Linked DNA regions of Homo sapiens. The protein of the gene in region 2 interacts with the protein of the main gene of each other region in a pairwise test. Each region holds a gene or a part of one and is shown on either strand. Other genes may lie near its edges.

What was found. The genes of interacting proteins can lie anywhere in the genome.
Region 1: the proteins of FOXP1 (region 2) and SOX5 come close enough for resonance energy transfer, tested with the Homo sapiens proteins (one study listed by BioGRID).

The regions. Positions count from the first base shown.
Region 1 is NC_000012.12:23,528,991-23,533,692, forward strand, and holds the end of SOX5 (transcription factor SOX-5), read right to left. Parts: 3' UTR 514-4,702; downstream 1-513.
Region 2 is NC_000003.12:71,580,700-71,587,698, reverse strand, and holds the start of FOXP1 (forkhead box protein P1), read left to right. Parts: upstream 1-3,970; 5' UTR 3,971-4,128; intron 4,129-6,001; 5' UTR 6,002-6,150; intron 6,151-6,999. UniProt on the Homo sapiens protein: Transcriptional repressor. Can act with CTBP1 to synergistically repress transcription but CTPBP1 is not essential. Plays an important role in the specification and differentiation of lung epithelium.

The DNA.
Region 1 (4,702 bases), on a different chromosome or scaffold from region 2:
AACTGAGAGGCTAATGTTAAACAATTCAGAAATATCCATTATTCAAAATGAGATACCAGCGAGGTGAAAATTATTCATAGTTCTTAGTAATTTCATGATCTGAAATTTATAAATCTTCTATACAAACGAAAGGATAAAGCACAATTCTAAAGCATAGAAACCCCCCATCCCCCACCCAAGGATAGTGTCCAGCCAGGGAAAACAACAATATTAAAGGTGCTTTAGACTGTTGGGTTTTCAATTGTGTTGAATCAATTACATATAAGAACAGTATCTTTTGACAGTATGGTGAAGCTAGATCTGTCTGAGTGAAATGCATTATATCAAGTCCTGACTGTCTTTCTGGGAATGTCCACAGCTAAAAATTAAACCTTTAGTTCTTAAAGTCAACTTCAATAAGAGGGATTATTTATATTAAAAACAAAATTAAATTTCCATACTTTTGTTCTTTTCATAATAAAACTAATTACACCCTCATAACAATAATTGTGAAAAGAAACACAGTATAATAAGTAAAGAACACATTTGCTGTTTTTATTGGTGCCTTGCATGGCAGTAATACTGAAAAAGGAGAATGCAAAAAAATAAAATAAAATAAACAAAAAACAAAAACGAAAAACAGGTTGGTGGCAACCCACATCTTTTTTTTAAGAGCACATAAACTCCTGTTTTATTTTTATTGTGGCATGAATGATAACATAAAACCAAAAACATGAAAATATACAACTTATATTACACTATGTGTTATGAACAAAATATAAATCTATAACTCTATGTTATATTTACATAATTACTTATTATTTTATTAAATTTCAAGTGAGATGGTAGGTTGCACATACTTTGTTTTAAGCTCCAGGCATTTGATTGTCTCTTTTCTATTTTTTTTCCATTTTTACTTGTAAAATCCAAAATATTAGAAGGACTAAGAGCTTTAGAGCCAGTGGAGCTATATAAATACTGTTTTAGTGAACCAGTGACGGAAACACTGGGGAGGACAGGAATCAATCAATCAGTAGGAAACTCAACACATCGTCTTCAACCTGGGAAGTTGATAGTTATAGGATACTTTAAAATTAAATACTGTAAAAGCCTGGCTAAACCAACAGCTATGCCCTACAAGACAAAGGGATACCTGAACCACTTTAAGTGGCCTTCATAGTTTTCCTTGCAGACCCCGTAAGTTTTATTTTATTATTAATTTGATAGACAAATACCTTATAAACCTGTTTGTAAATATACAGTTGTTTATTACAATTCAACAATTTACCCATTAGAATGAGTGAAAGTGTAATTATTTTTTATGTTTTAAATGTGATATAAGAGGTTTCTTCTGGGAACAGTCACAGCTTCTGGATTAAGAAAATATCTGAAGTTGGACCAAAAAATGGTTAATTTTCTTTAAGTGAATTAAGGTAAAATTCTACTCCGGAAATCAAATCTATAAAATAGCTTCACCACAGAAAACTTTTTTATATTTGTTCTTTATAAGAGGATTTGGTTCTAACGATGATTATGTTCTTTGGGAGGGATTTTATACATGGTTAACTCTTAACTGCAGATGCCAAATGAACTTCACAAATGGACTTCACTAATTTAGGTATAAATGTGCTGAAGAATAGTTTTATATTTTATCCAATTGTGGTAAGTTAATCACTAACTTATTATTAGTAACTATAAATGAGTAACTTTATTTTCTCCGGTAATGTTCTCTTAGATTCATATGAAAACAGGACTATTTTTAGAGAAACGGACTACAACAACTATAAAAACCAGAATTCTGGCAAGATTATTTCTCAGTGTTGGGGCAAGTGTGTGTGTGTGTGTGTGTGCGCGCGCGCGCGCGCGCATGTGAGAGAGAGAGAGAAAGGGAAAGAGATAAAGTGTGAACAGATAGGTAAGAAAGCAGACAGGAAGGAGACTGTTTATGTTTTAGTTTGATCTTTTGATCTTACTCTCATTTTCTTTATCTTTTTTGGTCATTATGGGGCACAGAAAAAGAATACAGGGTTTTAGGATCCTTTACCAAAATTATAAATCAACCAATGCCAAAAAGGCAATGTAGTAACACAGTAAGTTGCTATTCATAGCACCTTTTATCAAGTGACTTCAAAGCACTTTCAACATTAATATAACTATTTTTGCTTTTGTTTTCTTTTGGGGAAAACTAGGGCAAAGAAAATTTGATGTCCAGTGAATTAACCGTCAGAACAAGAGAACAGAATGCAGCGGTATGAACTTGCTTTTTGTTTCGGTTCATGCACAGTTTAGTCTCGGACATAAACCTAACTAAAATCAAATTTTGAATTTCAGCAGTTAAAAGTCACCATTAACAATTTTGTTTTCCCCTTCAAATAAAACAAAATATAACAAAAAAAAGACCAAACACCAAAGTGTTGTCAATTCATCGGTAAGTGTGTTAGAATTGATTTCAGCCATGAATGCCTTCAATGGCATCTACCTGGAGCTAAAACAAAGTATTCTTGTAGCCCAAACTCATGAAATGAAAACAAAGCATCTTTCATAACATGGTGTAAAGTAAGTATCCAGCAAACGTGAGAGGTGAACCCACATAAATCGGAAGGAATTTGTTAACAAAGACAGAGAACAAATTTTTTAAAAATCTGTTTTCACATTGTACATAAAAATGATATAAAAACAAGTGTCTATTTTTTCCTTATCCAGAGTGCTTAAAAACAAAACAAACAAAAACAAAAAAAAATTGGCTCTAGATGACTGTGGCAATTAAATAACTAAAATGAGTGATGAGAGCATAAGTTAATTAAGATTGAACACGACCCTCCTATTAATTCACTCCTTTGTTTTAAACATCAGAACTGATATTGTTGGGGCCAAAATTCTTAAAAAAGAGAAAACTTACGGAAAGAGAAGTAAAATTGTGGGTAAATGTGTGTGTGTGTGTGTATATGTGTGTATATATATGTATATATATATATACATATACATACATATATGAGTTGGAGATGGAAATTTGTTTTAAATATCTAACAGCTTATTGGCTGCACTTCCAAATCAGAGCAGAATAAAATAGAAAGGGAGAAATAAAATAAATTATACATAACTTACTAATCTGGGAACAGCTGACCATTATTATTATTATTACTATTATTATTATTATTTTATCATCATCATCATTACAACACTAGCAAAAAGAGGCAGTTCAAATGTAAATAAAGTCATCAAAAACAAACAAACAGAAAAACAAACAAAATGAAATCTCTGACATGCAGGATATGATCAGCTCCTCCAAGCAAAACCCCAGAGCAAGTCTTCTGAGAGAGAGAAAAATAAAAGGGATTCTTTTTTTATTTATATGTAAAAATCCAACTTTAGGGTGGTGTTTCGGGGGGTGAGATAGGAAAATGATGACTGGAGTGAAAACTATAGCACATCAAGCTACTAGTTGCAGTATTTACTATCTATCTGATACTTCAATACAAATAATGGCAATTGACTTGAAATGATTTTGCATTTATTTGTACAGGCCCTACAACTGCCTTGGCATTTGGCTGGCAAAATCTACATAAGCAGTCCCATCACATTCAGTTGTTGCTCTTTGCAAATACTCTGCTTGAACCAAAGTTGGACTTCAGTGGATTAATCTGACAGCAAGGGAAGAGCAGTGGCAAGGATCCCTGGGTGCAGCCAGGCTCCATTTTATTGGGCTGCAATGACTTTTAATTAAATCCTACTTTTTATGGCATGAACTACATATGGCCCACACTTCTGAAATGCTAAAGGCCTCCACCTCACTTCATGGAGGGGTGAAAAATACCTTATAAAATCATCAGTTTCATTTCCTGATCGGGAAAGGATGGAATGTTGAAGAAATAAGCTAATTCTATTTGTCTGAAAAAATGGCCAAATATATTCAATGAAAACAATGATTGTTTTGCTCAAAATATCAACAGGAAAAACAAAAATCACTAAGTAGCAAACGTTAATGGAACCAACTGACCAGGGAGAAAGGACATCTGGGAGCAGTTTGCTAGTAGCTTCCATGTTATACATGCACACCTCTATTACACAGGGCCACCTGATCCATCCAATAATAATCAGACATTTAAAAATATAATTTCTGAGCCCTATACTTGGTTAAGTTGTCATTTGAAGTGCAAAGTCAAGGTCAAGATTATTTCTAGACCAGTCACTTGGGAGGATGTGGGATTTCATCCCCAGATGTGGGTTTAACTCACAATGGTCCAACGTTATTCCTATTATTAGTACCATAATCACATACATACATACACACAAAAATCCAAGATCAGAAAATATTTTTCTCTAAATTTCTTATGTCTCTCTCTCTCTCTCTCTTTTCACCTGAGAACAGCACCTACAGTTTCCATTAAAAAAAAAAGTCAAATCTCACCAGCTGCTGGTATTTCAGGTTTTTCAAGGGATTGTCTAAGATTTAACACTGTCCTAACTTAAGAAGGAAAAGGAAAAAGTAAAGAGAAAAAATGAACTTGGTCAACACTTCAGTACAAATTTGGCACTTGCTCAAAGATGTAGTGTGGTGTGCAATAGATAAAGTCCTCTAAAGAAAATAATTGCTTATTTTGTGGTGGATAGCAAGGAAGTTAAAAACAGGCTCTTTTTCCCTCTTTCCCCTCATGCACAGACTTCCATCTTTAAAGTAGAGAGATGGAGAAGGTGGAGAGAAGTAAAGAGAAATTCATTTTTC
Region 2 (6,999 bases):
GGAGGGCAAATGAAATCCCTGGGCCTTAGATTCCTCATCTGTAATGCGATATTCTTAGTTATGCCCATGTTTTTTAAAGTGTAGGAACCTTGGCACTAGGATGGCATAACACTGAATCACACATTGAGAACTGTATTCCTTTCCGATCACTTTAAATCCTTCTGGTTGTTAAAAAAAAAAAAAAAAAAAAAACAGAAAAAAAGAGAGAGAAAAAACAAAAATTCAAAAATTTCCATTGATACTCTTGTCCTTAACCCTTCTCAACATTTGCCACTCTCCCTCCTTTTTTCAAAAATCATTTTTAATTTTTGTTTTGACCCTCAAAGAGAAATCAGTGACTTTGTTTTTACTGTGCTTGTTTTTAATTTATGGTGGGTGATACTGATTTCCCATTTAAGGCAGTAATAGAAAAAAATTAAAAGAAGGTTGATTTAAATGAAAATGTTTGCTACAATTACCATAATAAGTGGCCTCCAATGAGTATGGTATATTAATTATTCGGGAACTGTTATGTCATATAGATATGGCAAAAATCAGGACACCAGTAACTGTGGTTAAAGAAACACTAAATTAAGTGGTTTTAGTTTTTGTTCAACTCAAAACTTACAAGAGCATTCAGGTACGTCGTCAGGTGGTAAATGTCCACTCCAGTTTCTGTTCCCCAAATGTACATATATTTAGTGACATGGTATTTGGTGAATGAAGCTCATGTTTGGTGTATACAATCAACAGTAATGTGACAGGGGACTAACATATTCTGATACGTTTGGGAAAATTTTGGCTGCAGTTAACTATAATTTGCTAATTTTGCATTTACATTGGTTTTTTTTTTCTCCTGTTACTTAAAATATAACGAAATGGGGACAAGCACCTTTGCCTTGGTGTAATTAAAAATAAAATTATGTCAGGAACATCTGTTTTCAGAAGGGATTTCTATTTGTTTTATCACCAAAAGGTGGCGTCCTACCCCCATGCCCTTTATTTTAAAACCTTTCTTGCTTTAATTTAACAAAAAGAAACTTCCAGTTGATTACTGATAAAGAAATTAAAATCTGCCCCCCACGAATGTAACGTGACAGTGTTGAAAATGAACAATATGTTAAGCTGCAGTTAAGTTTCCCTCTAATGTAAACCAAATGGACATCGAGTTCTTTAATAAGGCAGCACAGCACATTAGACAGTATCATACAAAATTGAGTACAATATATCATGGGATTTACAACCAGGATTTCCTTTTGTCTGCAAAACTTGTTGCCAACCTGACTGTGGCCCCCACTTGCAAGTGAATGTAGAATTTAAGGCAGTTAAAATGCAGAATCAGATTAGCAGCAATCTAAAGATCTTTTTAGTATTGCGATGATAATAATTTTTAATAAACACACTGCTTAATCTGAAAAACAAGATCAGAGGATGAATTGTTCTTTACAGACTATGAATAGATCTGTTACATTTAAATAAGTCGTTATTCCCCTGAGTTATAATTCTACAGTCAGGCATATACCATAAACATGTTATATTTGGCATAAAGTACTTTAGAAATTAAAAACCATTTTTAATAGGTTGACCACTACAGAACCAGTAGACTGGCTACTTTGTAGATTTCCACTTAATTCCGTGTGAATTCAGCATATGGAATTTCCAGTGATGTCAAAGAGTTGTTGGCAGTATTAACTGAGTTGACATAAAGCTTTTAGTTCAGTGCCTAGATCATAGTATTTAATAAATGTTAGATGTTATTATTGACAGCTTAGACTGTGAGCTCCTCAAGGGCAGGAATTTTTATTTTTTCATCCCTCTGTGCCCACTCTGTGGTCTAGCACACAGTGGGTATGTCATTAATCCCTTTATGTCTTGACAAACAAGACGTCGAACCCTAGCCTCTAGGAAGCTAGGACATTCCATACAAACTAAAATGCATTTTATTGGTCTAGATTCTAGTCTAAAAGATTCAGTGAATAGTCTTATCTGGATAGCATGGAACTTTATGCAGCATGCATGCAATGTGAATTCTACCAGGCTGAAATTACCTTAGCAGCCTCCCTTTCTTTTATTCTGTAGCATCAGCGAATGGCTTTGTTATTTTTTTTTTTTAACTTGCGAAAGATACAATTTCAAAGCGATAGTCTTATGCCACCCTTGAAATTAAGATTTAAGTTCTTCTGTAAATTAATGTTTAACAATATTTGTAAAGGGGCATTACGCGAAAGAATTTAATAATAACCTTTTCAGGATATTATCTACAACTGTGCTGGTCTCAAGACCAAAGGGACAGTAAGCCTCTCCCCTCCCCGCAAGGGGAAGTACTTTGTAGGAATCCACAGGGGTGACTTTTAATATATTCTCATAAAGAATTGGCCTGGTGTACACCAGCCAGCCAGTAGCTGGAAATGCTGGTTTGGGAGTCTGGCCACTTCTGTGGTGGTGGGTCTGAAAAAATTTACTTCTGTTAACAACAACAACAACAACAACAACAAGACATAGAGGTCTTACAGCTTTCCAAGTCACGTTTTGGAAACACATACTCTGCTTCCTTCTCTATGCGTATTGATAAAAGTGAAAGAAATACTAGTGTCTTTTGTTTTATGTATGTATATTTCAAAACATTTAATTCAGGCTCTTAGTTTATTCCTTCGAATTTCTAAATTCAACCAAACTTCAAAAACCGCAAAAAGAAAAAAAAAAATCTCACCTTTTCAAAGAATTGGACAAAGCTTTTTGCACGTGACTGATCACTGGGAGAGCAGGTAATTTGTGTTAAACAACGGACTGACATGCTAGCCCCCAGGCGTTTTCCTAAGAGGAGTCGTGGCAAGAACACAGTTCCTGATGCAGCCACCTTCCCCCAAAGTGGACTCGATTGCACATTCCTGCAGTGGCTCTGACAAGGGGGCAGAAGCTCGTCCCACATTCACACTCTCCTGATTCCGAGAAACAGGGGAGAAAACCCCTCGCTGGCTGGCGGGGTTTCTGTTTCCTTGCAAACAGGGGTTTGTCCTTCTGCTGAACTTTCACCTCCCGAACTCGCCTTCTTTCATTGGACAAAGTGCAGAAAGAAAGAGGAGAGACCGAGGGAGGACGGGAGAGAGGGAGAAAGGGGGTTGAAAACACCACCTCCCACCCCGCTCTCCTTCAACTGTCACTGATGGCAAAACACTTTCACTTTTAACTGGAGGAAACTCACATTCTAGCCTGTCCTCTCCCCTCCCTTTCATATTTTTAGCTCAGAATCCAAGCAAATAGCCATCGCATTCCCATCTTCGTCCCTAGTTAACACTCTCCCTTCTCGTTTTTTCCGCTGTCTGAATGGGCCCCCCATTTCCCATCTCCTGAGGAATCTCCCCCTCCGCCCCCCTGCCCCTTATTTTCCAGGTCTTTCCTGCCAGATCCCTCTGTTGCCAGGGACTGCTCTGGCGTTCCCTTCCTCTCTCTGGTCCGCGGGGCTCTGCCTCCCTCTCCTCTTTCCAATCCTGCCTGGACGCCCCTCACTTCCCCCTCCCTGGATCCCTCCCCCCAACCCCCCCCCCCATTCTTTGGCAATTGCGATTTTTTTTTTCTGGGAGCCCGGTTGTTTACCCAGCAGGTGGATGTGACGTCAGGGACGCACAACAGCAAAAAATAACAACATCTCCCTCCGCGACGTGTTGGCCTCTCTCGCGCGCCTTATTTATTTATTTGTTCCGGGATGTCGGGGGGGAGGGGGGAGGGAGGAGGGGGGTGGGCGCCAGCGCCCCGGCGAACGGCAAAGAGGGAGCCGCTCCCGCTCGGGGGGCCGCTGGAGTGCCCAGCGGGGTGCGTGAAGCGGAGAGGGGACCCCTGCGGGAGGTAGAGGGTCGGGCCGGGGTGCGCCCCCGGGCCGGTGCTGCCCGCGCCTCTGCCGCCGCCGCCGCCGCCACCGGCGCTGGCTGGGCTCCGGGAAGCTAGTCCGGAGCGGAGGAATCTATTGTTATTTATTGTGTGGCGGTTGCACGCTGTACTCGCGGCGGCCCGGCCCTCGCCCGGGAGTGCGTGTGTGCGCGCGTGTGTGCGCGAGTGAGTGTGTGCGCGGGGTGCGCGCGCGGGCGGGAGTGGGCGCGCGCGGGGAAAGGCCCGAAAACACCTTAGTTTGCACCGAGAGACCATTTGCAGCGGGTGAGTTTGTATTTTTCCATTTCTGCTCCACTTTTTCCCAAGCCGCCTCCTGTCTTGTTTCCGCCACTTTAAACAACAACAACAACCAGCACAAAAAAAAAAAAAGAAAGAAAGAAAAAGAGAAAAAAAATGGAAAAAAAAAAACAACTACTTTCCACCTCCAGGCTCCACGTGCATCTCCCCCAGCCCTCCCCTCTCTTCCTCTCCCCCCCGGGTCGAGGCCCAGCTCTGGGATGGGTGGGGGCTGCGGGCCGGCGCGCGGGTGGAGGGAGCTCCGGCGGCGCCCGCACCCTTTGGGTTTATTTGCATAAGTCAAATGGGGGCGGGGGCGGTGGCGACTGTGAGGAGGCGAGATCGCCTGCCCGTAGGCCCCTTCACGCCTCTCTCTGCGCTCTCCACGATCGCCTAGGGGAGAGAAATCAATAAGCCCAGGCCGCCTGGCGCAACTTTCGATGTCCGGCGTTGGCGTCCGGTGGCCGCCCGGGCGCGGGGCCGGTGCGGGGTCCCGGGTCCTGGCCGCGGCGGGAGGGGGCGCGCGCCGGGCGCCTCCTAGGCCCAAAGTTTAGACTTGGAGCAAACTTTTCCCCTTCTTTCCCCGCGGGTGTGTGCCCCCTCGGTGCCCTTGAGCTGCCCCGCGGGCCCCAGCAAACTGACTGTGGTGCCTGGCCCTGGGCCCCGCACTGGGGAACTTCCCCGCTGCCACGCGCGCGTTACCCCGAGAGTCAGCGGCGAGGAAGCTCTCCCGCCACCCCCTCGGAGCCCGGAAAATTCAAACACGCACCTGCGCACCCCCAGCCAGACACGCACCCCTACGCGCGCTCGGCCTCCGCTTTCCCGAGACGAGTCCGCAACAGCCGTGGCCAGATCCACGGGTGGGTGCGGGAGCCGGATGCGCTGCGAGGAGTCGCCGCGCCCGGATCTCTCTCCCACCATCACACACATTTTCTGATTTTACCCCCCTCTGAAGCTTGGGGGACGGGGAGATTTCCCAAGCTCCGATTTGTCCTGCGTCGCGCGCGTGTCGCCTCGTCCCTCCGGCCCTGTCCTGGCGGCCGATGGCTCTCCGTCCCTCGCTTGCGCGCAGCCTTCCTCCCGAGCTCCCTGCGCTCTATTCCTGTCCCGCCGAGACGACTCCCTGGAGCCAGCGAGCCGAGGCGGCGTGCGCTTCGAGTGGGGACCACGGCGGTGGCGGCGGCGCCGGGAGCCGAGGAGTTTGCCAGTTGCCGCGGGGTCGCGGTCATTTGCTGCCTCCGCCTTCCCTCGCCCCCGCCTCCCGCCTCCCTCCTTTTCAGACAACGTCGCGCTCGGAAACTTAGATTCCTTCTTCTTTTTGGCCCTCGACGAGCCCCCCTCCCCACCTGTTGTGAGCTCCGCCTTGGTCCCGGGAGACTGGCAGTGACACACACGGGCTCTGGGGAGCTCCGCTCCCGGAAACAAAGTCGCATGCCCCCCTCCCATGTGTTTGCTTCGAAATCGCTGCCTGCAGCCCCCCATTCCCGCGCAGCTCCCGCCCCCTGTGAGAATAAGGACTAAATAAACAGTTGTAACTCCAAACCTTGCGCCCGTGATCGTATCCCCATCCCACCCCCTTCTCCCTATTCCTCCCCCCTCCTTTTTGTTGTTGCAACTTTGTGAGATCCTGGGGAAGGTGCTGAGACTTTGGCTCGGGCCGATTTCCCGGTCTCTGGATCCTTGCAGGGATTCCCTGAGCCGCATCCTCTCTTCCCTCCACGCGCACTCGCGGGTCCTCGGAGCCCGCTGCCCTCTCTGTCCTGGCCCCTCGGCCTACTCACCCGTCCCGTCCCCTTCAGTTCCCCCCAGCCTGCACGGGGAAGACTTGCTGAGGGTCGCCCCGGTTTCTTGTCGACTGCAGAACCCGAAAGTTTGTAAGAGGAAGAGAGCGCGCGGCGAGCGAGCGAGCGGGCCGGGGGCAGCGGCAGCGGCGCCGGGGACCATGGTGCTGCCGGCGCCTCCTCCGCGGGCGTGAAGGCGGCGCTCCTACTCCCTCCCCGGACTCCGCGGGTAAGTCGAGGCGGCCGCGGGCGCGGGGTCCAGGGACACCGGAGAGCCCCAGGCGGCACTAGGGGTTCTCCGTCCCCAAAGAGCCAGCCGGGGTGGCGCGAGCCTAGCGATAAGGCACCGGGAGCGAGGAATGTGCCCATCCTCAGGCCGGTAGGTGCTTCGAAATACTGGACTTCCTCCCCTCCACCCTTTTCCCCTCTTTCTTTCCTAAATCTGAAAATCTGGAGATCAAAGTTTAGCGTGGAGTGTAAAGTGCTCCGATAAAATATGGTGACATCCTCGCCCCCCTTCTCACCCCACTCCCCTCTTATAACTATTAATTATTTCCAAGTCATTGTATCCAAATACCCTTGCTGGGCTGATTACAAAGTGTATTGATTTAGTCTGGGCTCATCCTATGCTTTCGTCTTAATTCATTTTCTTTTTGCTCTACCAGAAGACCCAAAATGAAACTTATTTCTTCCTCTTCCCTACCTCCCCACCCCACAAGCCCTCATCTGTGAGGCTTGGGCAGAATAATGAAATTAATATAAACATTTCATTTGGTTGCATTTGACCTTATGCAGTCCACTTCTGAGGGGCTGGAATTGCGCTCATGTCTGCTCACAGGTATTTTCCAAGTTAGCATTTTCTTTTTTGTCACTGCTCTTTAAACAGGAATGCCGGAGGAGCATTCTGGATTCCCTTTGAAAGGCATCTGTACATTCAAACCGTCTACACTTCACCATTGGTTGTACGTAGACTTAAGGGTTTAGGGCTTGGACAATAGCTGAGTTGAGAAGACCTCAAGGATATTTAAAGGAATTTTTCTGCTACTGAAAATATATTGAAGAATCGCTGCAAAATTTT